4 linked regions of the Homo sapiens genome follow. The protein of the gene in region 2 purifies or fractionates together with the protein of the main gene of each other region. This does not show direct contact. Each region holds a gene or a part of one and is shown on either strand. Other genes may lie near its edges.

Region 1 (7,027 bases), on a different chromosome or scaffold from region 2:
AAAAAAAAAAAAAAAAAGCTTAATTAAAGTGAGTTGATGATTTACATGTGTGAAAAGGAAGGGAGGACTACAGAAGTGTCTGATAAGTTGAGGTAAGAATAATTTAATAGAGCCAGGTGCGGTGGCTCACACCTGTAATCCCAGCACTTTGGGAGGCTGCAGTAGGTGGATCACGAGGTCAGGAGATCGAGACCAGGTGAAACCCCATCTCTACTAAAAATGCAAAAAATTAGCCAGGCATGGTGGCAGGCGCCTGTAGTCCCAGCTACTTGGGAGGCTGAGGCAGAATGGCGTGAACCCAGGAGGCGGAGCTTGCAGTGAGCCGAGATCGTGCTACTGCACTCCAGCCTGGGCAACAGAGCAAGACTCCATCTCAAAAAAAGAAAAAAAAGAATCATTTAATAAATGGAGATGTCAAATATCATACCTATTTGGAAAGGCTGTGAAATATGCTAGAAGAATTCACAGGTGATACTATATTAGTAAGTGTTAAGAAAGGCATTAAAAAGCAAGTAAAATACAAGGTCAGAAAAAGTAAGATGAAACTTCTGGAGAAATAAATTTTCTGCATCTGGATTAAATTATTCAAAATGCAGAGTATATAAAGAGGAAGGAAACAGGCTCAATAAACTATGCACAGTAAAATAAAACTCAAACAGAATGACTAAATCAAATATTCATATCTATAAAAAATATCTCTAAAGTAGGCAAGGTGCAGTGGCTCATGCCTATAATCCCAGTACTTTGGTGAGAGGATTACTTGAGCCCAGGAGTTTGAGACCAGCCTGAGTAACACAGGGAGACCCCATAGCTACTAAAGATAAATTTTAAAAATTAGCTAGGTGTGGTGCTGCTCAGGAGTCTGAGGTAGGAGGATCACTAGAGCCCAGAAGACAGGGGCTGTAGTGAGCCGTGTGGCATCACTGCACTCTAGCCTGGCTGACAGAGCCAGACTCTGTCTCAAAAAAAAAAAAAAAAATCTCTCGACTATACTCACAAAACTGGTCTTTTACACTGTTTCTGATAGGTATGTTTTAAGCACTTTGATAAACCATTAGAAATTCATTTTTAAAAGAGAGGGGATGATTAAAAAGAACGTCCTATTAAAATGAAAACTAGATGAGATAGACTGCTTTTTCTTCTCCCGCTCAGTGCTCTGCTTTTGAAGACTCATTTCTTATAATCTCCACATACCTAAGAAGCCCTTTTTTCCAAAGCAGTATAATGCATTTGAAGTAGGGAAATTCAATCAGGTTTCCGTAACCATTAAACATAATCTGTTCATGCAGTAGACCAGTCAGATCCAACGGTTAGTCACTTAAGTAACTGAGAATCCTCCCCAATGGTAAACTATGCTGAGTTCTTAACTTCTAGATATGTTTATGTCTGCATATATGCTAAGTTTATTAAGCTCACCAAAAGTTCTACTATTAGGAGATAAATACATTTTTAAAGGCTTAAATTCTTTATATACACAGTCACACTAATTTTTCCATGTGAACACTATTAATTTACTTGTTTGCTCAGTAAATACTGAATGAACTTCCAACAGAAGCCTACTTTCAAATACTGACTTAACTGTAGTTTTAAAAAATTTACTCAAAATTTATTTTAAAAATAATATGCTTTAGCCATTTTAAGGTCTTTTAAAGGAAAATATTTTTTAAATACAGATTATTCACCCAAGCATGAGTTATTTGATGTTTATAATGATAGGAAACAAACCACAGAAACAAATTAGAACTAGCTTTCAAGCAGATAAAGGCAAAGGTCAGAGGGAACACCATTTATATCTAAACACAACAGGACGTTAACACATATTAAGACTGTGATTACAAAACCTCCAAATGACATCAGGAGACAATTTCTTAGAAATGAAATATAAGAACCCTTTTATACAATTTTGGAATAATGTGAGTTTTCTAGCTAGACCTACATTTAGCTGTCCACACTAGCTTTGGAATAATTCAGCCTGAACTCAGCTGCTGGCCCCTTGGGATCATAGGTAACTACACAGTCCTGTTTTTTTCTTTGTTCTCGTTTCATTCTTTTGTCTACTTATGTACCATGTTGGAAAAATACTATCCTACTACCTTTGGAAGTTGTGGTGCCAAGAAATGATGGAGGACCATATTCTCTTGATTCTCAACATTTTCCAGAGGTGAGAGAAATATGGAAGCTATTAGTCTTGCCTTGGGCCTAAGTGAATAATGCCAAAAAAACACTCATGACAATTTGGAGAATATCAAGGCAGCAACAAAGGAAGCAATAGTCACATAGGAACACACAGCAGAAGCTCTACAACAGAAATGATGAAATGAAGATCAAAGTCATCAGAACACTCCTGTCAGTATGCTTCTAACTGAAGCACCTTCATAATCAGATAAACAGTGATGAAGATAATTATCTGCTGACAATGACGATACATGGTGTAGAAATCCATATGGCTTCCTCAAATTACAGTGGAAAAAGACTTAAATATCACAAGTAAAAGAGCAAAGAGTTAGATAAGCAGATTGACTATGACCATGATCATCCAATTATCATAATTTTTTGAGAAAAATTATTTCCATTTATTTGGATTTATTTTATGGATGCTTCCAGGAACACATCTAAAGCATTACTAAGGAACAATGGGAATGTGTATAACAGCTCTTTGTAAACCATAATTCACTATACAGGGGGCTGTATCTATACAGGACTTAGTTTTTAAAGTCAGTCTGTAAAGTGAAAACTCGAGAACAAAATTCCCCTTGCAAACTCCTTAAAATGCCATCACTTTCTGTAAACTACCTCTTTACAAAAATAAGATATAATAGATGTATAAATAGATACTGTATTTAATAACATATAATATGTAGTAAAGGGCCAAACTATACAAAACACAATAAAAATCTTAAATATTAGAATCACACTCTATGTGCTTACAAAATGAGACACACACGAGACTATGGGACAGCTGAGTATTCAAATCTCCCACCTCTCAACCTCTCATCAACCAAGCCATATACCTACTAAAGTGAAATAGAGGGAGAACGGTCTTGACAATTTAAACTTACTTTTATTTCTTTTTTAATTTTTGGTTTGGCATACAGAGTTGGATTTGACTAAGTAAAAAATAACAAATGTAAAGTATTATTACTAATTTTTCTTAAACTGTATTGGAGCAAAAAACTTTATTAAACTCAGGTACCCTCTCAGAAAAGATAAATAATAATCAGGACAAAGAAAAATGAAACAAAAATAGTCATATGACATTTTGGTCAATGAGAGACTGCATATACGACAGTGGTCCATTAAGATAATACTGGATTTTTACTGTACTTTTCCTGTGTTTATATATGTTTACATAAACAAATACCACTGTGTTACAATTGCCCACAGTATTCAGCACAGTAACATGCTGAACAGATTCGTAGTCTAGAAGCAACAGGCCATATCATATGACCACACAGCCTAGGTGTGCAACACGTTATACCATCTAGTTTTGTTTAAGTGCACTCTGATGATGTTCACACAATGATGAAATCGCCCAATGACTCATTTCTCAGAATGCATCCCCATTGTTAAGTGACATATGAATATAAATGGCTTACTGGTAGGCACATACCTGCTTCGACTTTTGTCTACAGGAAAGATTCGAATAGATTTATCGAAACTAGCAGACACAAACTCCTTCCCAGTGGGAGAGTAATCCACATCAAGCACTGCAGATACATGATCCATATGGACCATTACAGGAGTGTCCAGTGCACGCATATCAAAAGTATATAAGCTGTAAAAGAATTTTTAAATATTTGACACATATTTCTAGAAAGATGCCATATGCAGTACTAAAAGATACCACTGAAAACAAGAACCATTTGCAAAACAATGCACATCTAAACAAAAAGCTCAATGCTGTACACAAGCAGGTGAGGGATAAGGAAAAATTTCAACAGTTTTTATGATTCCTTAAGACTCCACTTATATATATACCAACACATTTTCCACCCTATAAATCTCATTGTAGAAAATGTGGAAATTTCAAAAAAAGTAGAGTACAAAAATTACCTTGAATTCTACTACCCAGAGGCCAGTTATTTAGTACAGCATAATTTTTTAAAAAACCTTTTTCACCATACTATTTAAATACATACTTTTAATAAAATTGAAATGTTATGTAAAGCTTTATATTCTGATATTTCACGTAGCATATTAATGAGCATTACCCATGTTATTAAACAATCTTTGAAAATATTTTAATGGCTGTATATATAAGTTCAAATAATTTATTTCCCTATATTTTAATAGTTTCCAACATTTTATTATATATAATGCTTATTAAATTCCCAACGTTTGGATTTTTAACATTCAATCTTTAACTGAATGGGACAGGTTCAATTAAATCTGGACAGATTCCTACAAGTAGCATTGTTAAGCTTAAAGGCATGAGCATTTTTAGGCTTGATTTGAGTTGCCAAATCACTGCCAACAAAGTTGCACTAATTTATACTCCTACTGGTGATATGTAAGAGTGAACATGGCCTTTCAAAGGGTGAATCAAAATGAGAAACTATACTTTATGCACAATTGGTAAAAACAATGACTTCATGAGTTTCAAGATTCAAAAATTCTTAATCTAATGGCTAAAAGAATAGTGCTTCAAATGAACCAACATGAACAATGGACAAAAGTAATACAGCAATATTGTGACCAAGTTCCTAATATAAAAATACTTGAAGATGCTAAGATTAGTGAGTAGAAGTCTGAGAAGAGGATATCTACATAGTTTCAAAGTATCTCCCCAAAGATATATAATAATTACAAAAGGAAAAAAAAGTAACTCTTTAGTGGAGAAACCTGGCAGACACCACCCTAACCAAATGATCAAGGTTAACATTACTAGTAGTAAGACATTGACAACTGCTTTACAGTTCCTGCCTAAGAACAGTGGTTTTCAGCTAGGTTTGCTTGGTTCCAGCAAACTGCTTTTTAGTAAGATGCTTTATTTCTACATGGGAAAAATGATAAGAATTCCAATTCTAAGCATATCAATTTGTGTACATGGAAAACCTTTAAATAAACAAAGTTCCACATTATAGGATTCATTAGGGATCATCTATTCTAACCCTCACCTTACAGATGCTGAAACTATGATATAGAGTTAGTTTAAATGACTTGCCCAAGTTTATACAGTAATTACTGGTCGGCCTAGACTTGAACTTAGGTTTCTAATTCAGAATGACTAGAATATCTAAAGGGCAATAAAAGAAAAAAATACTTACAAATATAGAAAAGGGATACAAAAGCAAGATCATTTTCAAAGAGCAATTATGATACTCCAACAGTCACTTATTATAAGGGATATGCTCTTTGTTTCAGGTGGCATATGCAATTCTTTTCAAGGCAAGGAATGAGAAATTCCGAGGACACTCTGAAAAACGGTACCTTGCTAAAATAGCTTATTAGAACATTCTTTAGAAATCTTAATGAGGTTGGTCACAATAATGCTGTATTACTCTTGTCTTTTATTGCCTTTAACTGGAACAATGCCACTTAATTTCAAAACATCAATAAAGGTTAAAAAAAAAAGCTTCAATTACTGTGGTTTGGTATTGCTAGTTAATGAGAGTCTAACTGAGCTTCTTTTATTTTTTTAAGACACCAGGGTCTTGTTCTGTTGGCCAGGCTGGAGTGCAGTGGCCCAATTACAACTCACTGTAACCTCAAACTCCTGGACTAAACCTCTTTTTAGCAGAAAGTCATAAAAGATGCTTTTAGTTGGTACCACTAAAACATCATATAATAAATCCTTTTATGAGCTAACACTACTACTTTTTTGCTTCCAAATCTACATAGTGGAACATAAAACAATACAAAGATCTAAAGTTCAATCCACCAACAAACTTCTGCCTTCTTAAAAAAAACATGTATTAAGAATCTATCAAAGGCATAGCGCTATAATAAATGCTTTGGGAAAAAAAAAGATAAGATACTCTTTCCTCCCTGGGAGACTAATCTCCCCGCTTTAATATCTTAAAAAGGGGATAACATGCATGTCCCACCTACCTCATATGGATACTGAAAAGATAACTATAATTTTTCTTCCATCTGACTGAACAGTGATAGCTGATAACATGACCACATGAGCATCAGCTACCTGATACTCACCGCAATACAAACATTGCAGGCAGATATTTTCATTTCCATTAAAACATGTATGGTTCAGTCATTATTTATAAGACCTACATCAAACATCAGCCAACTTCTTCTGTAAAGGGCCAAATGTTAAACATTTTCAGGCAAGTGGGCCATAAGGTCTCCGCTGCAACTATTCAACTCAGGCATTATAGCACAAAAGCAGCCATATCCAATATCTAAATAAGTAAGTGGGTGTGGCCATATTCCAATAAAACTTTATAAAAAACAGGCAACAGAAAGGATTTGGTCCACGAGTTGTTTACTGTCCCTGGTCTACATCATTCTAAATACTGACGAAATAAATACTTTTCTAAGAAGTTCTTCTCCAATTTGGAAAACTTTTTAAAGCTAAACAGATGACAGTTTTCAAACTTTATAGGTATACCTACCTAGTGGTATATATTTTATTAGTACGACTTATACAATTAAGCCATTCATGATAGAAATACACAAGTTTTTAAAAGAGGGAAACTTACTTATAATCTTCATTTGCTGCTGTAAAAATGAAAGCTTCCATAGGGTTCCAACAGATTGTATTTGTTCTCATATCTAAGATAACCTGAGAAAGGAAGAATGGATGAATTTCCCACTTCCTTTCCTTTTCTTTTCCCCACTGATTTAAGCAAATATTTCATAAACACCTATTATGTGTAAAGTACTCAGCTCAGTGCAATGGGAAGAGAAATCAATCAGTAATTGCTTCTTAAATACACAGGCAGAATAGTAAATATAAAAATAGAAATGCTTAACTCCCAGTCTCCTAATCTCAAACAACTTACAGTTTAGTCAGAAAAATGTGACACATAATAAAAGTTAAAATATAAACAATAAAGTAACAAATGAC
Region 2 (7,027 bases):
GCTTGAACCCAGGAGGCGGAGGTTGCAGTGAGCAGAGATTGCGCCATTGTACTCCAGCCTAGGTGACAGAACAAGACTCTGTCTCAAAAAACAAACAAAAAAACCAAAGATTTAACATCTACACTAAGAATGAATCTTCCATGAAATTGTGATGAAAGAAAAAGTAGTTCATGCTAGTTTTGATGTTGCAAAACTCAAAAAGCAGGTTACAACCCCTGTGTGCGGTAAGTGCTTAGTTAAGATAAAAAAGGTATTACATTTGTGTGTGGAAGACACGAAGACAAATGTGTTCCTACTGACAGCAATCACATTTGGTACTATCCGAGGTTTAAAGTATCCACAGGGTCTTCTGGAACATAATCCCTGTGGGTAAGGGGGAGACTACTGCCTTCAAATTAATTGAGATGGCCTATATTCCAAGTAAAACATTTGTAATAATTAGGTTCATACCAAAATTATTCCTGAAACAGATTTCAAAACAGAAAACTACGAATGTAACATTATATAAATCAGGGAAAAATGTAAAAAATAAAACAAGCCCTAAATGTTAACTGCTAAATTATTGATTTCAAGAGTACTTACATTTTGTTTGCTTTCTCTGGAGTTTCAAATTCTTTCCATAAACTATCAACCTCTTGAAGTTTCTTCTCATTTAGAACCTGTAATAAAATGTTTAAATAGTTTTATTTAAATGGTACAGGTGAGGCATATACAGCTGCATTCTTCAAATACAATTTTACATGTAAAATGAAGGTGTAGAAGCTATTTCTTTCACTAAGATAATGAACTAGTTTTCTTACCCTGCATGTAATTTTGGTCAAATTACTAGTTCGAATTGCCCATTTAACAGCTAAATGGAATTCAGATCTAGTCCAGTCAGCTGTAGTACAGTGGCTATTCAGTCTAGAATCTACCTGGCCTCAAGAGATATTCCTGCCCCAGCCTTGGGCCGTAGCTGGAGCTATGGGGTCCTAGGGGGTAGGGCAGGGAACCTTTCTTTTTATTTTTTTGAGATGGAGTCTCGCTCTGTAGCCCAGCCTGGAGTGCAGTGGAGCAATCCTGGCTCACTGCAACCTTCACCTCCTGGGTTTATGAGATTCTAGTGCCTCGGCCTCCTGAGTAGCTGGGATTACAGGTGTGCACCACTGCACCTGGCCGAGAACCTTTCTTTTAAAAGAGCCATTAATCCCTTTACAGTAAAGTATTGTAATCATTAAAAACTTTAATTTGCGCCAAGCATGGTGGCTCACATCTGTAATCCCAGCACTTTGGGAGGCTGAGGCAGGCGGATCACCTGAGGTCAGGAGTTCAAGACCAGCCTGATCAACATGGAGAAACCCCGTCTCTACAAAAAAAAAAAAAAAAAAAAAATACAAAATTAGCTGGGCGTGGTGGCACATGCCTGTAATCCCCGCCACTCGGGAGGCTGAGGCAGGAGAATTGCTTGAACCCGGAGGCAGAGGTTGCAGTGAGCCGAGATTGCGCGACTGCACTCCAACCTGGGCAACAAGAGCAAAAAACTCCATCTCAAAAAAATAAAACAAAAAACAAAAAAAACTTTTGTCTACTTTCAATAGATTATATTCGTTATTTACTGCTATGATCATCCTAACATGAAAGTATTATGGATTTCTCTAAAACTATCGTCAATTGTGAGACACATCTAGATGTGAGAAATTTTTTAAATGCAAAAGAAACATAGGGTACTTTAATCAACAATATACTTATCAACATTTAGGTATATATTCTCCAAGACTTTGAATGTCTGTGCAACACATGTTCATGCATACTTTTAGGAATCACAGTAAATGGCTTTTTTTTTTTTTTTCTGAGATGGAGTCTCACTCTGTCGCCAGGCTGGAGTGCAGTGGCGCAATCTCGGCACACTGCAGCCTCCGCCTCCCGGGTTCAAGCGATTCTCCTGCCTCAGTCTCCTGAATAGCTGGGATTACAGGCACGCACCACAACACCCAACTAGTTTTTGTATTTTTAGTAGAGACTGGGTTTCACCAAGTTGGCCAGGCTGGTCTTGAACTCCTGACATCAGGTGATCCACCTGCCTCGGCCTCCCAAAGCGTTGGGATTACAGGCGTGAGCCAACACACCCAGCCGCCTTGTATTGTTTTGAAGCAAGACCTAGACATTTAATTTTTACCTGTTAATATTTCAGTTTGTATCTATAAAATATAAAGACTTGTTTTAAAACTAGTACTGTTGTAACAACAATGCTAAAGATTGCAATGGTAATAGTTGTATACTATTTCTACTTAGAAATGGAAATTATCTTAAAATGATAAAACTTAAAATGGATTTCTGTATACAAATATTTATCATTACCCTGGCTGAAAAGAAATGATTAAAAATTTGAGACAAATAAAAACTTTGAGACAAATGTAATACAGAAAATGTAGCAATATCTCTAACTTTCTTATTTAGATGGTCTTTATTAGCAATGTTTTCTTCAAGATGTTGCAGTTGGGAACACAATGGTTTTATTTGTCATAGTAATGGTTTTGGCTGACATAACATAGTCTTTGAAGACCTTTGTGTGCTCATGAATTGCCCTGATTTTATCACATTTCCTTTGTTATTTTAACTTCAGTTTTAGAATGGTGATAGTATTTTTTAATTAATTTATTTATTTATTGAGACGGAGTCTCGCTCTGTCGCCCAGGCTGGAGTGCAATGGCAGGATCTCGGCTCACTGCAAGCTCCACCTCCTGGGTTCACGTCATTCTCCTGCCTCAGCCTCCAGGACTACAGGCGCCTGCCACCACACCTGGCTAATTTTTTGTATTTTTAGTAGAGATGGGGTTTCACCGTGTTAGCCAGGATAGTCTCGATCTCCTGACCTCATGATGCACCCACCTCGGCCTCCCAAAGTGTTGGGATTACAGGCGTGAGCCACCCCGCCAGGCCGAAAGTATCTTTTAAATATGGCAATTTTGTTACCCAAATGTTATCTTCAAATATACTTGCTTTTCAGCTAGAAAAAATGTGAATTTTACTCATGAGTCATATCCCCTATTTGATACATGTCCTCTTAAAAATAGTGAACTTCAGTTATGGTTAGCTGCATTCTCTGAACAATTTCAAAAAATTTTAATCAGTGTTTTCAGTATAGTCATGAGACTTGGTGAGGTGTCTCTGGATTCTAAAACTTCATGATATACAAAGTTAGAGCTATTAGTTTATAAATTGTTAATACCAACTCTAGGCTTTGTAGTTGTTTATTGCTTTGTGTGACTCTAAGTTTTTCTAGTTTGGGTTATTTTTACCAACATATCTAATTCAACCATGTGTGATTAAATTTATACAGGCTGGGCACGGTGGCTCATGCCTGTAATCCCAGCACTCTGGGAGGCTGAGGCGGGCGAATCACGAGGTCAGGAGATCGAGACCATCCTAGCTAACACGGTGAAACCCCGCCTCTAACTAAAAATACAAAAAAATTAGCTGGGCGAGGTGGAAGGCGCCTGTAGTTCCAGCTACTCGGGAGGCTGAGGCAACAGAATGGCGTGAACCCCAGGGGGCGGAGCCTGCAGTGAGCTGAGATCGCGCCACTGCACTCCAGCCTGGGCGACAGCAAGACTCCGTCTCAAAAAAAAAAAAAAAAAAAAAATTATACATCAGAACAAACCCCTAAAATCATCTTGTCACTCATCTAAGTTTTATACAACTTGCAACATTGTGTTTCTCTTACTGAAAATAATATATAACCAGACTAGAACTGCGTCTTAATGTGTAGATGTGCTATATTATGGACTTGATAAATAATGCTTATTAGCAAAGTATAGTTTTAAATTTACTAGCTGTGTTGTTTTTCCAGAGACAGGGTCTCGCTTTGTTGTCCAGGCTGGAGTGGAGTGGTGTGGTCCTATGTCACTACAGCTTCAAACTCCTGGCCTCAAGCGATTCTTCTGCCTCGGCCTCCCAAGTAGCTAGGACTATAGGTGCACACTGCGACATCTAGCTCTTTTAAAAATCTTTTTGTAGAGACAGGGGCTTGCTTTGTTGCCCAGGCTGATCTCTAACTTCTGGACTCAAGTGATCCTCTTGCCTTGGCCTCTCAAAGTGCTGGGAGTGCAGGAAGGAACCATGGCGCCTGATCCAGCTGGTTTTTTAAATAAAAATATATGCATAATATCTGTGCATACTCTATTTCACAAAATTTAACATGCTATTCTTTTTTTTTTTATTTTTGAGACGGAGTCTTGCGCTCTGTCGGCCAGGCTGGACCGCAGTGGCGTGATCTCAGCTCACTACAACCTCCACCTCCCTGGTTAAAGCAACTCTCCTGCCTCAGCCTCCCAAGTAGCTGGGATTACAGGCACATGCTGCCATGCCTGGCTAATTTTTTTTTTTTTTTTTGTATTTTAGTAAAGTCGGGGTTGCACCCTGTTGCCCAGGCTGGTCTCGAACTCCTGAGGTCTGGCAATCTACCTGCCTCAGCCTCCCAAAGTACTGGGATGACAGGCGTGAGCCACCACACCCAGCTTATGTTATTCTTTTACACTCCCAATTGACCTGTCATCAATTGTAAGACATCCCAATTTTAGGGATGTTAAATATGGGGGTTGTGCCTTTTAGGATTGAGCCCATCCTATCTAATACTTGGGCAGCTGATACAGAATATTGGTGAGGGTATATGGAATTAAGAATTTTAATCACTTTTTTTGTTTTTTTTTGAGACAGTGTCTCGCCCTGTCACGCAGGCTGGGGAGTGCAGAGGCGCGGTCTTCTCACTGCAACCTCCACCTCCCTGGTTCAAGCGATCCTCCTGCCTCAGCTGGGACTACAGATTTGGCGACACACACCACCATGCCCGGCTAATTTTTGTATTTTTAGTAGAGACGGGGTTTCACTATGTTGGCCAGGCTGGTTTCAAACTCCTGACCTCATGATCTGCCCACCCCAGCCTTCCAAAGTGCTGGGATTACAGGTGTGAGCCACCATGTCCAGCCTCCTCATTTTCATTTTTAATTGATTGCTTGAGACTTTGTGTGGTTTTTGTTTTGTTTTGAGATGAGGTCTCACTCTGTTGTCCAGGCTAAAGTGCAGAGGCTCAATCACAGCTCACTGCAGCCGTGACCTCCCTCCCACCTCAGCCTCCTGCAGCAGCTGGGACTACAGGCAAGCACCACTGTGCCCAGCTAATTTTTTTTCCGCCATGTTGCCCAGGCTGGTCTGCAACTCCTGGGCTCAAACAATCCTCCTGCTTCACCCTCCCAAAGTGTTAGGGTGACAGGCGTGAGCCACTGCACCCAACCTCTATGTTTTGTGTAAATTATTTGATGCTAACTTTTAAGTTTCACTTCCACAGACAATATGAGCAAGTTAATATTTTATGAAACTTGTTTAAATACAGGATAAAACTGATAATTAGTTTAAAATGTGCACTGCTCAAAAAGAAACAAATCCATACACGCAACAAATGTGAAAAAGCTCTTCGGTTAGCTTCAGAAGCATTACACTAAGTGAAAAAAGCCAAACACAAAAGACTAAAATACTACTCCACTTACATGAAACTTCTAGAAAAAATTATGCAAAAAGAAAGCTGAACAGTGGTTGTCTAGAGCAGGACTAACTTGAAAATGGGCATGAGAACTTTTTGCAACAAAGTGTACTATAAAACTGGATTGTAACTAAAACCTATAGGTGAGTTATACAGTATGTAAAGTACACCCAATAAAGTTAGAAAAAATATATTGCTCAGTACTTAGGTTTTATATAGACATTTGGTATGTACATCAAAAATCTTTCTCCAAACCTTGAGAAAATGAAGTGACACAAAATGCTATGCTACACAGCTACACTGTACAATATAACCATTAAAATTCAAGTAAGTTAAAATTCACTTCCTCAGTCCTATCAGTTACATCTCATGTGAAATGGTTATACGTACTAATGGCTACCACATGGAAGAGCAGCTGAAGGAAGTCTGGTATGAGCAAGACTAAAATCTTATGCTGTGTGCCACGTGACACAAGGACACAGGTGGAATTTCTTTTTTTCTTTTTTTCTTTTTTTTGAGACGGAGTCTTGCCCTGTCGCCCAGGCTGCACTGCAGTGGCGCGACCGCAGCTCATTGCAACCTCTGCTCCTAGGTTCAACTGATTGTCCTGCCTCAGCCTTCCAAGTAGCTGGGGTTACAGGCGTGAGCCACTGCTCTCGGCCACAGGCTGAATTTTTATAATATCCTAGAATTAATCACAACAGTTCCTTTACACAATGTCTTTACATTTATATATATATAACCCTGTTAATGAGCAATAACTTTTTGGAAGTGTTTTCCTTTTGAATCGCTCTAAACACATAAGTGGGCAGAACACCGTACCTCATGGCTGTAATCCCAGCACCTTGAGGCCAGGAGTTTGAGACCAGCCTAGGCAACATAGTGAGACTCTGCCTCTTAAAAAAAAAAAAAAAAATTTAGGCCAGGCATGGTGGCTCACGCCTGTAATCCCAGCTACTTGGGAGGCTGAGGCAGGAAAATCGTTTGAACCCAGGAGGCGGAGGTTGCAGTGAGCCGAGATCACACCACTGCACTCCAGCCTGGGCAACAGAGTGAGACTCCATCTCAAAAAATAAATAAATACAAATACAAATAAATAAATAATTAGCCAGGCATGGTGGCTTGAGCCTGTAGTCCCAGCTACTCGGGAGGAGGTGGGAGGATCACTTGACCCAGGAGGCCAAGGCTGCAATGAGCCATGATCCTGCCACTGCACCCCAGCCTGGGTGACAGAGCAAGACCCTGCCTCAAAATAAATTTTAAATACATAAACATGAATTTGTATGTGTACATGGGTTATACATAAAATGTTTTCCTCACTGTAAATGGAAGTTTAAAAAAAACTTCAAGGCCAGGTGCAGTGGCTCACGCCTGTAATCCCAGCACTTTGGGAGGCTGAGGCGGGCAGATCACCTGAGGTCAGGAGTTCGAGACCAGCCTCAACATGGAGAAACCCTGTCACTACTAAACATACAAAATTAGCTGGGCGTGGTGGTGCATGCTGGTAATCCC
Region 3 (7,027 bases), on a different chromosome or scaffold from region 2:
TCTTTTTAAAAGGAGGGGAACTATAAAAAAGTAAGTTTCCTCCTGGACCTTGTTCAGGAGCTATGCAGATGTACCAGTGGATGAACTGAACTGACTGATGCTCAAATACCACTAGGTAGCCCTCTTTTCCAGCCTCAGAGGGTCTGCCTGTATTGGTCTACAGAAAATATGCTTACTCCATTTTGCTCCCCACTGGTTAGGATCTTGCTATTTGGCATGGTTCAATCCTGCCTTCCAAATAGCTTCCCCAAAAGTCCCCATAAATACCTCCTATTATCAGAGTCTAAAATGGTCAGCAATTGAAATTTGCACCAACCTTGGAATAGATGAAGAAAATAAAGATAAGCTAGTTTCCAGCCGGGCACGGTGGCTCATGCCTGTAATCCCAACACTTTGGCAGGTCAAGAAGGGTGGAACACGAGGTCAGGAGATTGAGACCATCCTGGCTAACACGGTGAAATCCCGTCTCTACTAAAAATACAAAAAAAAAAAAAATTAGCCGGGCATGGTGGTGGGCGCCTGTACTCCCAGCTACTGAGGAGGCTGAGGCAGGAGAATGGCGTGAACCCGGGAGGCAGAGCTTGTAGTGAGCTGAGATCGCGCCACTGCACTCCAGCCTGAGCAACAGAGCAAGACTCCATCTCGAAAAAAAAAAAGATATGCTAGTTTCCACTGAGGAAAGATTACAGTGGGGCTCCTGGGGACTCACTCTTTGTAGTGGTTGGGTGCTAGTCATATGGAATTTAAAACTAATGCACAGATAGGGAAAAATCTTATTTTATGACCAACCAGACCTCCTGGGGTAGGAGCCACCCTCTGAAAGCATTTAACAAAAGCACTTAATGGGATATCATGCAGCCTTAGATCTCCTCTTTGCTCATGTTGGGGGTTATGTATGGTGCTAAACAAAACTGAATGTTGTACCTATTTTTCCAGATTTTGCTACTACAGAAAATTCAATACAATTTGTAGCTGACACTATTGTTTCTTTGGACACTGCCACCATATGCATGAAAGAAATTTCTCAAGGGAACAGAACACATGATGTTTGCAGGAGGAGCTAATGGTTAGTTTGCAGGCATCCCAAACAGTGGACGACATGCTGGGCTTAGGTCTCCTCTTTGCCTTATTTAGGCAAACACCTAGCTGTAACCCATCAAGTTATTCCTGTACTCTACACACCAAAACCTAACTCAGGAGTGTATTTTTATAACAAATAGCCAAGTCTGGCCAATCACAAACAGCCAAGCCTCAGCCCATCGGACAAGGCAGCCTTAGATCTCCTTAGATCAGACCATACCTATGGGACATCAGGCAGCCTTAGGTCTCCTCTTTGCCTTATTTAGGCAAACACCTAGCTGTAACCCATCAAGTTATTCCTGTACTCTACTTCTGTGTTCAGCTGATAAAAGCACACTTTCCTTGCTGTAGAGCGGAGGTCTCTGAACCCCTTTCAGTTTACAATGCTACCTAACTCATTAATCATTCTTTGCCCAAAGAAACTCTGTCAAATTTAACTTGTCTAAAGTTTTTAACATATAAAAGCACCATAGGTGCCTGAAAAGCAAAAGAACCCGTGAATCACATTCTTTTTCACAGAATTTGCAGACATATGTCACCTGTTTCTTTTCAGATAATTTATTTGACTATTTCTTTTTTTTACTTGCTGGACTGTCCAAAACTTCAATCTTGCCTTTTCCACCTTCAGAATTGGGAAGCTTAATGTTATCTATGGTGACTTCAGATGGGATGCTGTCATCTTCGTCTTCTGATTCTGAACTGTTCTCTGAACTGTCTTGTGAACTCTCTTCTGAACTGTCCACTTCTTTTGAATCCGACTGATTCATCTCAAACAAAGCCACATCCTGCAAAAAGTAGTGGACAGGAAATCTATTTCAGAGCAGTTCCTTAAAAAGTCGTAATAAAACAATATTGGGAAGAACCAACATTCAGCAAACATATTGAAACATAAAGGATAAGAATTTGGTTTTTTTTGGAGACAGAGTCTTGCTCTGCTGCCCAGACTGGAGTGCAGTGGTGTGATCTCAGCTCACTGCCCCCTCCGCCTCCTGGGCTCAAGCAATTCTTGTGCCTCTCAGCCTCCTGAGTAGCTGGGACTACAGGTGTGCCCCATCACATCCAGCTAATTTTTGTATTTTCAGTAGAGATGGGGTTTCACCCTGTTGGCCAGGCTGGTCTTGAACTCCTGACCTCAAATGATCCACCCACCTTGCCCTCCCAAAGCGCTGCAATTACAGGCATGAGACAGCACACCAGGCCACAAGGATAAGAAATGTTTTTAATACAACATGGCTCTTTTATATTTTTAGTTACCAGGGTCTGTCATAATGATGATTTAAATTTACTCTAAGTGTCTAAAATATCTGCTACGGCCCAATTCTATATACCCTAAACACATTCAACAACATTCTTTCAGCAAATACTAACATGAGTTAGGCACTACACTAGGTACTAGAGACTCAATAACAATAAAAAAATCAAAACAAACCCCTCGCTTTGGTGAAATTTACATTTTCAGGCAGAGACCAGTAAATTACAACCTGCAGGCCAAATCCTGCCCACCGCCTACTTTTGTTCAGCTCACAAAGTAGGAATGTTTTTTCTATTTTTAAGTGGTTGGGGGAAAAAAATTAAAATACTGCTATTCACGAAAGGTGAAAATTATATGAAATTCTCATTTCAGCACCCATACACAGTGACGCACTGCTCTAATTGAGCCAATAAGCGATCACTCGGGGCCTTCTGTTGGAACTGTTGAGAGAGAAATCTGAGTTGCTGACTCTAAGGCTGAAGCTGCTGATAAACCAGAAACCTACCACAGCTGGGGGAAGAGCATGCTCTAGATTAGGTCAACATTAGGAAAGCAGAACCAAGAGACAGAGCGGCTGACCACTGAGGACACTGAGCACCTGGATCCAGGTGCACCTGAAATCACCAATCCTGGAGGTTTTTTTTCCCCAATAAAATGTTTTCCCCTTGCTTATTCATGTATGTATTGTCAGTGGCTGCTTTCACACTATGACAGCAGAGTTCACCAGTCACAACAGAGACAGTAAGGCCCACAGAACCTAATGTATTTACTATCTGACCTCTTACAGAAACATTTGTTGACTCTTGTTCCAGAGGCGAAAGAAAGGCAATAAACAAATACATATAAAGCATAATGTAGGGTTGTGAAAATATGGAAAAATAAAGCAGGATAAAATAATAATACAGCTATCAGGGAAGGCCTCCTGATCAGGTGACGACTGAAAAGAAACAGAGGGAGTCGAAATGGAGAAATCTAGGGAAAAGCATTCTACCTGAGAAAACCGCAGGGGAGAAGACCGGCTGCAGTGAGACTGGTGCTGGAGGGCAGTAAATGAGGACTGTGTAGGAGATAAGGTCAGACAGAGCAGCAGTGCCCAACCTCTTTGGTACCAGGGACCAGTTTTGTGGAAGAAAATTCTTCCACGGACCTTGGCAGGGATGTTTTGGGGATGAAACTGTTCCACCTCAGATCATCAGGCATTAGAATCTCATAAAGAGCGCACAACAACCTGGATCCCTTACATGCACAGTTCATAATAGGGTTCACGCTCCTTTTGGAATCTAATGCCACTGCTGATCTGACAGGAGGCAGAACTCAGGTGGTAATGCGCTCTCACCCACCGCTCACCTCCTGCTGTGCGACCTGCTTCCTAACAGGCCACAGACCAGTACCAGTCCACAGCCTGGGGGTTGGGAACCTCTGAGATAGAGAACTGCAGGCAGGATCATATGGACCCTTTGAAGGACTTAGTTTATTTGAAACGTGATGGGAAGCCCCCAGGTCCCAAACTGTGTGAACAACGGACCCCAGGGAAGGCACAGTGAACGCAGGAAAACCTGCTAAGAAATTGCTGCAATACTCCAAAGGAGAGGCCATAATTACCTGGGCCAACAAAGGTCCAAAGGAACTGCAGAGGTTGTACAAAGTGGTTGGATTTGGGATCTATTCTGGAGGGAGAGCTGAATAGAATGGCTAATGAATTAGATATTATTAACAATTGTCTCAGCTTGGTCCAGACACAGATATTATAAACGGAATTCCACTGCAGAAACAAGATATGAGTATAAACTGAGAGAACATTTTTGCACATAGCTTATGTAATCAATTGCTCTCTTCCACACATCATTTATTTTTGCATACTCAATAAATCAGGCTATGATTACCTCTTTTGGGGCTTGGACAGAAAAAAACCCAGTTAGGACATCGAGTAAATTAATGCTTCAGAATAACAAATGTAGCATTTGACTTAGGAAAAAAAACCTTCCTGTGACATCATATGACTAAAATGACTAAATCATAAAATGACTATGTACCTATACAACATTGGAAACATGAGCTAACACCAGGAAAATGAAAACTTGAAAATAAAATGGAAAAGTTCTCTTCTTCTTAGGTGACAGGCAGACCAGTAATTTCACCATATGAAAACAAAGCATAGTTACCATTTGTATAACTTTACTATGAGGCCCATCAATGTTTTCAATATTGAAACGACCAGGTGGTGCAGCTGCCATTTCTTTTCTTAGCTTTTCATTTGCCCGTGCCATCTGTGGGAGAAATGTCTGTACCTGGTCCAATACTGTGGAAAGTAAATACAGCATATCAACATTTATGCTAGTAAATTCTGAAACCCAGGATTTCCTATAAACACTTCTGAATTGAGTATTAATAATAACAACCATAATTACATATCTTTTAGTTCCCTTCATTTAAAAACCCTCCATCCTCTTCTGAATAAAACAGTAGGACTACACAATCCAGCAATTGTTTCACAAATGTTTTATGTTTCTCATATATCCCCAGGACTGTAAACTCCTAGAAGGCTGGCATTCAACAAATAGTAACTAAATAGGGAGGCAGTGTGACTTAACAGTTAAGAGCACCAGGTTCTGAGGCTTTAGGGTACGAATAACTAGGTATGTACAGAATCCTAGTTCTACCTCTATCTGAATTACCTTGGGCCAGTTAATTAAGTAGTGGTTATTTCTGCCTACCCAACATACGTTCCCTTTCTTCTGATAATATAACCCTGGCTTTCCTTTTAAGCTTGTGTCACTCTTAGTCACTCTTGCCCCTCACCCCATACATGCCTACATCCTCCATATCCTTGGCCACTGTACCATGCTTTAGTGGCATCACAGTGACACGCTGCTCTAGTCGGGCCAATAATAGATCACTCAGGACCTTTTGTTGGAACTGTTGAGAGAGAAATCTTTCTGAGTGAATGACTGAGTTGGCTGAATATAAGGCTGAAGCTGCTGATAAACTGGCAACTCTCCACACCTGGGGGAAGAGTACGCTCTAGATTAGGCCAATACCCAGGAAAGCAGAACTAAGAGACAGAGTGGCTGACCTCTGAGGACACTGAGCACCTGGATCCAGATGCACCTGAAATCTACTGTGCCTGGAGTATTTTTCCCCCAATAAAAAGAGCCAACATAATTTCTTTTTTTGCTTAAGGCAATCTGAGCTGGATTTTAGTCATTTGCAACCAAGAATCCTAATTAATACATTTAATTCTACCTCTTGAAACCTCAGCGTACTAATCCATAAAAGAGGAGTGATAACTGTCAGTCACTGTGCCAAATACAGAGCAGTCAACAAACAAGGATATTTATTTTCTCTCTCAAAAGAGGCCCAGCACATAACCACGCATATAACAGACTCTCAAAACTTATGTAACTGCTATGGCTACATAACAGATGACTAAAATGTCCAGCGTATGGAAGAAGAAAAGAAAATAGTGGCCAAGGTCAAGTAGACGACCTCTATTTGTAAAATAAGGTGCTGGAAGGACTCCCTAAGAGCATGCACACAAATAAAGCCCGACGTAATAGTGAATGTTAGCTCTCATTCCCCTTCAGATTACAGAAAGAGAAATTACTAATACAAATAAAGGTATTTCTCTGTCCTCAGATTTAAATATATTGCTACAGATAGAAAATCTGGTACTGCTTTTGTTTCCAACTAATGAATCAAGTAGAGCAAAACAAGTACCAAAATGTGCGGCCTGAACTGTGATCCTCAGAAGCCAAATAATTCCGTGGTACTCTAGGAGAGTATATGCTGAACCCTGAGGCTAGTCCAGTCGTGGTTCTTCTAAATTAAATAATACTCAACACACAACACCATAATATTCAAAATGTCCAACATCTAATAAAAAATTAGCAAACATGCAAATAAACAGGAAAACATAATCCATAAAGAGTAGGGAAAAAAGATTCAGAAATGATGCAGACGACAGAATCAGCAATAAGAATGTTAAAACAGCTCTTAGAAATATACTTTGTATGTTCAAGGAAGAAAAGAAAAGCACAAACACAAGGAAAGAAAAAAAGATGTAAACAGTCTCAAACTTCTAGAGATGGAAACTGTATCTACCTTGAAAAAATACATTTGATAGAATTAACAGATTAGACAATATAGAAGAATAGTGAACTCAACGAAATCAGCGATAGAAGCTATCCAAATTGAAACACACAAAACATAAGACCCAAACAAACAATCAATGAGCTGTGAGACAACCTCAACTGGCAAAATTAGGTGTCATTGGAGTCCCTTCAGGAGAGGCGAGACAGGAGCAAGCAACAACAACATCCCTAAAAATTTCCCAAATTTGATAAAAATTATAAACCCATAGATCCAGTAAGTTCAACAAACCCAAGCTCAAGACTCACAAAGAAAACTACAAAGGGCACATCACCATAAAATCGGTAAAAACCAGTAATGAAGGGAATCTTAAAGGCAGCCAGAGAAGAAAAGAAACACCATATTCATGACACAAAATGACAGTAGACACTGGCGTCAGAAACAATGCCACTGAAAAGAAAGTGTAGTGATGTCTTTAAAGTACTGGAGAAAACAGAAAAAGCAAAAAACCACACTGTCAACCTAGAATTCTAAATCCATTAAAGCATCTTCCAAAAACTGAAAGCAAAATACTTTCTCAGACACACAAAGGCTGGTAAGTCTATC
Region 4 (6,964 bases), on a different chromosome or scaffold from region 2:
TTGTAATCCCAGCTACTCGGGAGGCTGAAACAGGAGAATCGCTTGAACCAAGGAGACAGAGGTTTCAGTGAGTCAAGATCGTGCCACTGCACACCCAGCCTGGGTGACAGAGCGAGACTCTGTCTCAAAAAAAAAAAAAAAAAAATTTGTAGAGACAGGATCTCACTATTTTGCCCTGGGTGGTCTCCAATTCCTGGGCTAAAGAGATTCTCTCGCCTCAGCCTCCCAATTTCTGGGATTGCAGGCTTGAGCCACAGTGCTTGGCCACATCCCGTCTTTTAACTGGAGCACTCAGTCCCTTTACATATTTAAGTATTGGTATAATGGTTTCAAATTTTCCTTCTTTTGTGCCTTCTATTTGTTCCACTTGTTCTGTTTCTTTTTCTTTCTTTCCTTTCTCTGGATTTATCATTGCATTTGCACTATTTTCCCCTCTACTGATTTGGAGTTTATTCTTTTATCTTTTTTTTTTTTTTTTAAGAGACGGCATCTCCCTCTGTCGCCCAGGCTGGAGTGCAGTGGCGCAATCTCGGCTCACCGAAACCTCTGCCTTCCATATTCAAGGAATTCTCCTGCCTCAGCCTCCCGAGTAACTGGGACTACAGGCATGCACCACCACGCCCAGCTAATTTTTGTATTTTTAGTAGAGATGGGGGTTTCACCATGTTGGCCAGGTTGAACTCCTGACCTAAGGTGATCCACCCGCCTCGGCCTCCCAAAGTGCTGGGATTACAGGTGTGAGCTACCACGTCCGGCCATACAAATGTTTTATTTGATACTACAGTAGGGATTTTTTTTTTCTTTGACACAGTCTTGCTTTGTCACCCAGGCTGTAGTGCAGTGGCATGATCTCGGCTCACTGCAAACACCGCCTCCCCGGTTATAGTGATTCTCCTGCCTCAGCCTCCTAAGTAGCTGGGATTACAGGCACGCACCACCACGCCTGGCTAATTTTTGTATTTTTAGTAGAGATGGGGTTTCACCATGTTGGTCAGGCTGGTCTTGAACTCCTGACCTCATGATCCACCCGCCTCAGCCTCCCAAAGTGCTGGGATTACAGGCGTGAGCCACCGTGCCCAGCTGGAAATTTTGGTTAATAATTTATCACAAGTTTTATTTATTTATTTTTTTGAGACGGAGTCTCAAACTGTCACACGGGCTGGAGTGCAGTGGTGTGATCTTGGCTCACTGCAACCCCCGCCTCCCAGGTTCAAGCGATTCTCCTTGCCTCAGCCTCCCAAGTAGCTGGGATTACAGGTGCCCACCACCACGCCTGGCTAATTTTTTTGAATTTTTAGTAGAAACAGGGTTTCACTATGTTGGCCAGGCTGGTCTCAAACTCCGGACCCCATGATCCACCCGCCTCAGCCTCCCAAAGTGCTGGGATTACAAGCATGAGCCACCGCGCCTGGCCCTGTTGCATGTTTTAAAATAGATATACTTAGAAATATTACATGGAACCCCCAAAGTATGTACAACTATGATATGTCAATTTAAAAAAACTTTAAAAATTGCCATTGTTTCCAACAACCCATTCTCTGGAAATCAGGATTCTCAAATCTCAATAAACATCAAATTCATAAAAGAGGAAGACTTCAGGAATCTGAACAATCATTAAATACCTAAATGTTTCACTATTAGTCAACAAAAAAGTTAAACTCAATTTTAAAACCAAACTAGCTTATAAACACTAATTGAAACTTGCTTAGGGTGTATTTATTTGCCTTTCAATTTCTTCAGGGGTTAAATAAATTAACGAATGATATCATACCACCAGCCAACCTAAATCCCTACCTAGCATGATCAGTTTGGTTTCGCTGTACACCAGACAGCCAAAACTTGCAAGGTTTTGATTGAACAACAAATACTGCGTGCTTACTCTGTACCAAGCATCAGGACTAGATGTTTACCATGCTTTATTTCATTTGATCCTCACAACACCCTCATGCACTGTCATCCCCATTTTACAGTTGAGGAAAACTGCAAAGTTCAACCTGAGACCATCCGATTCCAAAACGTTTCAGGGAGCTGCGTTAAAGCGAGCACTGAGTTTGGAAGCTTCAAGTTCTAGGCTCAGCCACGTACTAAGCTTCAAAATGCATGGGAGGAGGTTTGTGGGGAGTGCTACCGCCGGGATCCAAGCTCCACTGGAAGGATTAACTATAGAAGTTACAGTGCTTTACAAATTCTTCCCTCCTCACCAAGTGCCAACCAAAACTACTACGCCAGGACACACGTTTTAGAACTTTCCCTAGATGTTTAAAAGTCAGAGACGACCAAGAGTTTAGAGACGCCGCACGTGGTGCTACCAGACTTCTGGTTTTTGAAGCCACCGCCTTGCAGGAGAAGCCTTTCCTGCACTCCAGGCCGTGAGTCGCGCTCACTTCATGTTCCCCACAGCCCCCAAATGCCAAAGGCTCCTCTAGGTCCCTGGCGCGTGTGACTCGCGGCGGGCACTAAGCGCAGACCCATGGGAGATCTCCTCCTGAACCCCAGCAACGGGGGTGGGGTGAGGTAGGGTGGGTAGGAGAGGTTGATCCGAATCCCAGGGTCCCACGCCATCGTAGATTTCGTATGAAAAGAAACAAGGAAAAAAAAAAGTTGGAGCCAAGTTTTCTTCACCCAACTTTTTGCCCTCTCCCACGTGGGTTGGTCTCTTTCTCCCAGGCTGGGCCATGCCCCCTCCGCTCGCTGCAGGCCTTTTGCCAAGCAAACAGACCGTGCGGCAAAGCAACACAGCTGCGGGGATCCTAAGGTTTCCTGAGTTCTAACCTCGGGCCAGGCTGCTGGGACCCCGCCGCTGCTGGGGTTCTAACTAAGGGCCCGGCGGTTAAGACCCAACGCCGGCGGATGAGACGGCGCAGGCTCTAAGCCTCCATCTAACAGGCTAGGGAGTGAACGCAACCCTGAGTCTCCCGCTTCCCGGTCCCTCGGCCGGCGCACGCACTCACCATGGCTGCGGTTCCGCGGGCTCAGCACTCCTAGGGGAGCGCAGCTGACGTTTCAGAAGCACTCGCGTGCACCGGAAAAACTCACAGAAGCAGCAGCGGAAATGGCCCCGCGCGGCAGGAAGCGAAGGTGACGCTACGCGAGCGAGTGGGCCCCGCCCTCTACGGGGGCACTGGCGCGGAAACTGGCCCTGTGTCGAAGAAGGAACGTACTTTGGCGTTCTTATGAGCTGCCTAGTACAAATTATTGGCAGAAACAATGAATTAAACATTCAAAAAGTAACCCACCGGCCGGCCGCAGCGGCTTATGGCTGTAATCCCGGCACTTTGGGAGGCCGAGGCGGGCGCATCACCTGAGGACAGGAGTTCGAGACCAGCCTGGCCAACATGGCGAAACCTCGTCCCTACTAAAAAATACAAAAATTAGCCAGGCGTGGTGGCGGGCGCCTGTAACCCCAGCTACTTAGGAGGCTGAAGCAGGAGAATCGCTTGAACCCCGGAGGTGGAGGCTACAGTAAGTTGAGATCATGCCACTGCACTCTAGCACTCCAGCTGAGGCGACAGAGCGAGACTCTCAAAAAAAAAAAAAAAAAGGCCGGCCGGGTGCGGTGGCTCCCGCCTGTAATCGCAGCACTTTGGGAGGCTGAGGCAGGCGGATCACTAGGTCAGGAGATCGAGACCATCCTGGCTAACACAGTGAACCGTCTCTACTAAAAATACAAAAAATTAGCCGGGCATGGTGGCGGGCGCCTGTAGTCCCAGCTACTCGGGAGGCCGAGGCAGGAGAATGCCGTGAACCCCGGAGGCGGAGCTTGCAGTGAGCCGAGATCGCACCACTGCACACTGCACTCCAGCCTGGGCAACAGAGTGAGACTCCGTCTCAAAAAAAAGAAGAAAAAAAAGAGGGCCGGGTGCGGTGGCTCACGCCTGTAATCCCAGCACTTTGGGAAGCTGAGGCGGGCGGATCACCTGAGGTTGGGAGTTCGATACCAGCCTGACCAATATGGAGAAACCCCCGTCTCTACTAAAAATACAAAATTAGCCGGGCGTGGTGGCGCATGCCTGTAATCCCAGCTACTCGGGAGGTTGAGGCAGGAGAATCGCTTGAACTTGGGAGGTGGAAGTTGCAGTGAGCCGAGATCGCGCCATTGCACTCCAGCCTGGGCAACAAGAGTGGAAACTCGGTCTCAAAAAAAAAAAAAAAAATTCCAGCCACTAAACAGTTAAGGCCTGGCTCATTATAATTGGCTGACGTCCCTGCCTGCTCAGATATTTAATATTTTGAATAGAACTTTTGGGTAAAAGAGTCTTCAGGGTAACATTTATTTTCCCACCAACACTGATCCTAAGATGGGAAAAGTAATTCCCCCACAGGAAATCAGGATACTGCAAGCAACGAGAAAGGCATGTTGAGTGGTTAAACAAGAATACATGTATTCAATACAGTGTTCATTAAATGTTTGATAATAGAAGGACAGGCAGATCCAAGTATTTCATAGGAAGAAAGAAATCAAGCAGACCGCAGGTTATATCACCCCATCACACATTCAGGGAACTTAATCTTTTCATTCCAGAGGATGGGTTTGTTTAAAACAAGTTCTTCCTCCTAATTACTTTTGAACAATTCCCCAATACTGTCCTTACCTGCACCAAGAGCATGCTAACCAGGCCTGGCACCAGGGTCAGAGTTGAGGCTGGGGCATCAGCCCCCTTTGTGAGGTGGCCTCAGTGACAGGGGTGCTATGAGGTGGCGGCTATCCTACTGCAGCTGGCTGCATCAGATGTGCCAGGCCTGCCCTCTAGCTCCCAACACCATCTGCCTGATCTAAGCTTTGCCATGTTGTTGTCACTGCTGGGTGCCTGTGCTGTGGTGGGGCCATTCCATGGCCCTGAGTGGGAGCCAGTGCAGGGCCTGCTCTCCCAGAATCACAGCTGCAGGGACCCTCAGTGCTGTGGCAACCTGCTTGTCCTCTGCCTCTTTCTGGTCTGGCAGGTCCGGCACTGTTGGCACCAGGTCACCAGGACCCGCTTCAGCACAAGGAATGTCATCAAGGTGAGTGGGCCCCATACACCTTCACCCTTCTTCCCTCAGCACCATGATTGTCTCTGTCACTTGTTACAAGGACCTTGTTTTATGCCTGGTGTACCAGAAATGAATCAGAGGGAAACTCAGGCTGCTCAGGGAGAGCATCGGCCAAGCCCCAAACCCAGGAGTCACCCTGAGCTCCTCTCTTTCCCTCACTCCACACATTCAATCCATCTGCAGGTCCCAGGGGCTATACTTGCAAATTGTATCTCAAATCTGATCACTTCTAACCACACCACACCCTCCTGGGCAGAGACACCATCATGTCTCAACTGGACCATAGCAACAGCCTTCTGCCTGGTTCTTGCTGCTTCTCTTATCCAACCACAGCCTATCCTCCATACAGTCACCAGAATGGCCTTCTTCTTTCTCTCTCTCTCTCTCTCTCTCTCTCTCTTTTTTTTTCTGAGACAGAGTCTCACACTGTTGCCTGGGCTGGTGTGCAGTGGTGTGATCTTGGTTTGCTGCAACCTCCGCCTCCCTGGTTCAAGCGATTCTCCTGCCTCAGCCTCCCGAGTAGCTAGGATTACAGGCGCCCGCCACCACGCCTGGCAAATTTTTTTTTTTTTTTGTACTTTTAGTAGAGATGGGGTTTCACTTTGTTGGCCAGGCTGGTCTCGAGCTCCTGACCTTGTGATCTGCCTGCCTCGGCCTCCCAAAGTGCTGGGATTACAGGTGTGAGCCACTGTGCCTGGCCTCTTTTTTCTCTCTTTTAAAAAAAAAAATTGGTCCAAGGATAATACACACACACAATTACAAGTGTGTAGATCAGTAAATTTTCATAATTGAATACATCAGTTTGTAGCATGCAGATTAAGAAACAAATGATTACCAGCAGCCCAGAAGTTTTAGTCACAACTCTGCGGATTTCCTTTTCTTTTCCTTTTTTTTTTTTTGAGATGCAGTTTTGCTCTTGTTGCCCAGGCTGGAGTGCAATGGTGTGATCTCGGCTTACCTCAACCTCTGCCTCCCAAGTTCAAGCAATTCTCCTGCCTCAGCCTCCTGAGTAGCTGGGATTATGGGCATGCACTACCACACCCGTTAATTTTGTATTTTTAGTAGAGGCGAGGTTTCTCCGTGTTAGTCATGCTGGTCTCGAACTCCCGTCCTTATGTGATCCGCCTGCCTTGGCCTCCCAAAGTGCTGGGATTACAGGAATGAGCCACCACTCCTAGCCAACTCTGCAGATTTCTTTCTTGTTTTTCTTTTTTTTCTTTTCTTTTTTTTTTTTTTTTGAGATGGAGTCTTGCTGTGTGGCCCAGGCTAAAGTCCAGTGGTGCGATCTCGGCTCACAGCAACCTCTGCCTCCCAGGTTCAAGTGATTCTCTTGACTCTGCCTCCCTAGTAGCTGGGATTACAGGCATGTGCCACCACGCACAGCTAATTTTTGTATTTTTAGTAGACACAGGGTTTCACCATGTTGGTCTGGCTGGTCTCGAACTCCTGACCTCAAGTGATCCACCCACCTTGGCCTCCCAAAGCGTTGGGATTACAGGTGTGAGCCACCACGCCTGGTCGACTCTGGATTTCTTTCTTTCTTTCTTTCTTTCTTTGAGACGGAGTCTTGCTCTGTCACCCAGACTGGAGTGCAGTGGCGCGATCTCGGCCCACTGAAAGCTCCACCTCCCGGGTTCATGCCATTCTCCTGCCTAAGCCTCCTGAGTAGCTGGGACTACAGGTGCCCGCCACCATGCCTGGCCAATTTTTTTTTTTTTTTTGTATTTTTAGTAGAGACGGGGTTTCATCGTGTTAGCCAGGATGGTCTCAATCTCCTGACCTTGTGATCCGCCCACCTCGACCTCCCAAAGTGCTGGGATTACAGGCGTGAGCCAGTGCACCCAGCCTCTTCTTTTTTTTTTTTTTTCAGATGGAGTCACGCTCTGTCACCCAGGCTGGACTGCAGTGGCGTGATCTTGGCTCACTGCAACCT

The links.
Region 1: the proteins of NOP58 (region 2) and DCAF13 purify together in Homo sapiens (affinity purification with mass spectrometry; 2 studies listed by BioGRID, with this or other methods). This does not show direct contact.
Region 3: the proteins of NOP58 (region 2) and NOPCHAP1 purify together in Homo sapiens (affinity purification with mass spectrometry; 2 studies listed by BioGRID and IntAct, with this or other methods). This does not show direct contact.
Region 4: the proteins of NOP58 (region 2) and SNU13 fractionate together in Homo sapiens (co-fractionation; 3 studies listed by BioGRID and IntAct, with this or other methods). This does not show direct contact.

What each region holds. Positions count from the first base shown.
Region 1 is NC_000008.11:103,432,374-103,439,400, reverse strand, and holds part of DCAF13 (DDB1- and CUL4-associated factor 13), read right to left. Parts: intron 6,743-7,027; coding exon 6,660-6,742; intron 3,776-6,659; coding exon 3,611-3,775; intron 1-3,610. UniProt on the Homo sapiens protein: Part of the small subunit (SSU) processome, first precursor of the small eukaryotic ribosomal subunit.
Region 2 is NC_000002.12:202,268,745-202,275,771, reverse strand, and holds part of NOP58 (nucleolar protein 58), read right to left. Parts: intron 660-7,027; coding exon 583-659; intron 1-582. UniProt on the Homo sapiens protein: Required for the biogenesis of box C/D snoRNAs such as U3, U8 and U14 snoRNAs. Part of the small subunit (SSU) processome, first precursor of the small eukaryotic ribosomal subunit.
Region 3 is NC_000012.12:104,989,316-104,996,342, reverse strand, and holds part of NOPCHAP1 (NOP protein chaperone 1), read right to left. Parts: intron 4,632-7,027; coding exon 4,495-4,631; intron 1,866-4,494; coding exon 1,647-1,865; 3' UTR 1-1,646. UniProt on the Homo sapiens protein: Client-loading PAQosome/R2TP complex cofactor that selects NOP58 to promote box C/D small nucleolar ribonucleoprotein (snoRNP) assembly. Acts as a bridge between NOP58 and the R2TP complex via RUVBL1:RUVBL2.
Region 4 is NC_000022.11:41,685,843-41,692,806, forward strand, and holds the start of SNU13 (NHP2-like protein 1), read right to left. Parts: upstream 2,955-6,964; coding exon 2,952-2,954; intron 2,486-2,951; coding exon of another isoform or gene 2,386-2,485; exon of another isoform or gene 1,876-2,385; intron 1-1,875.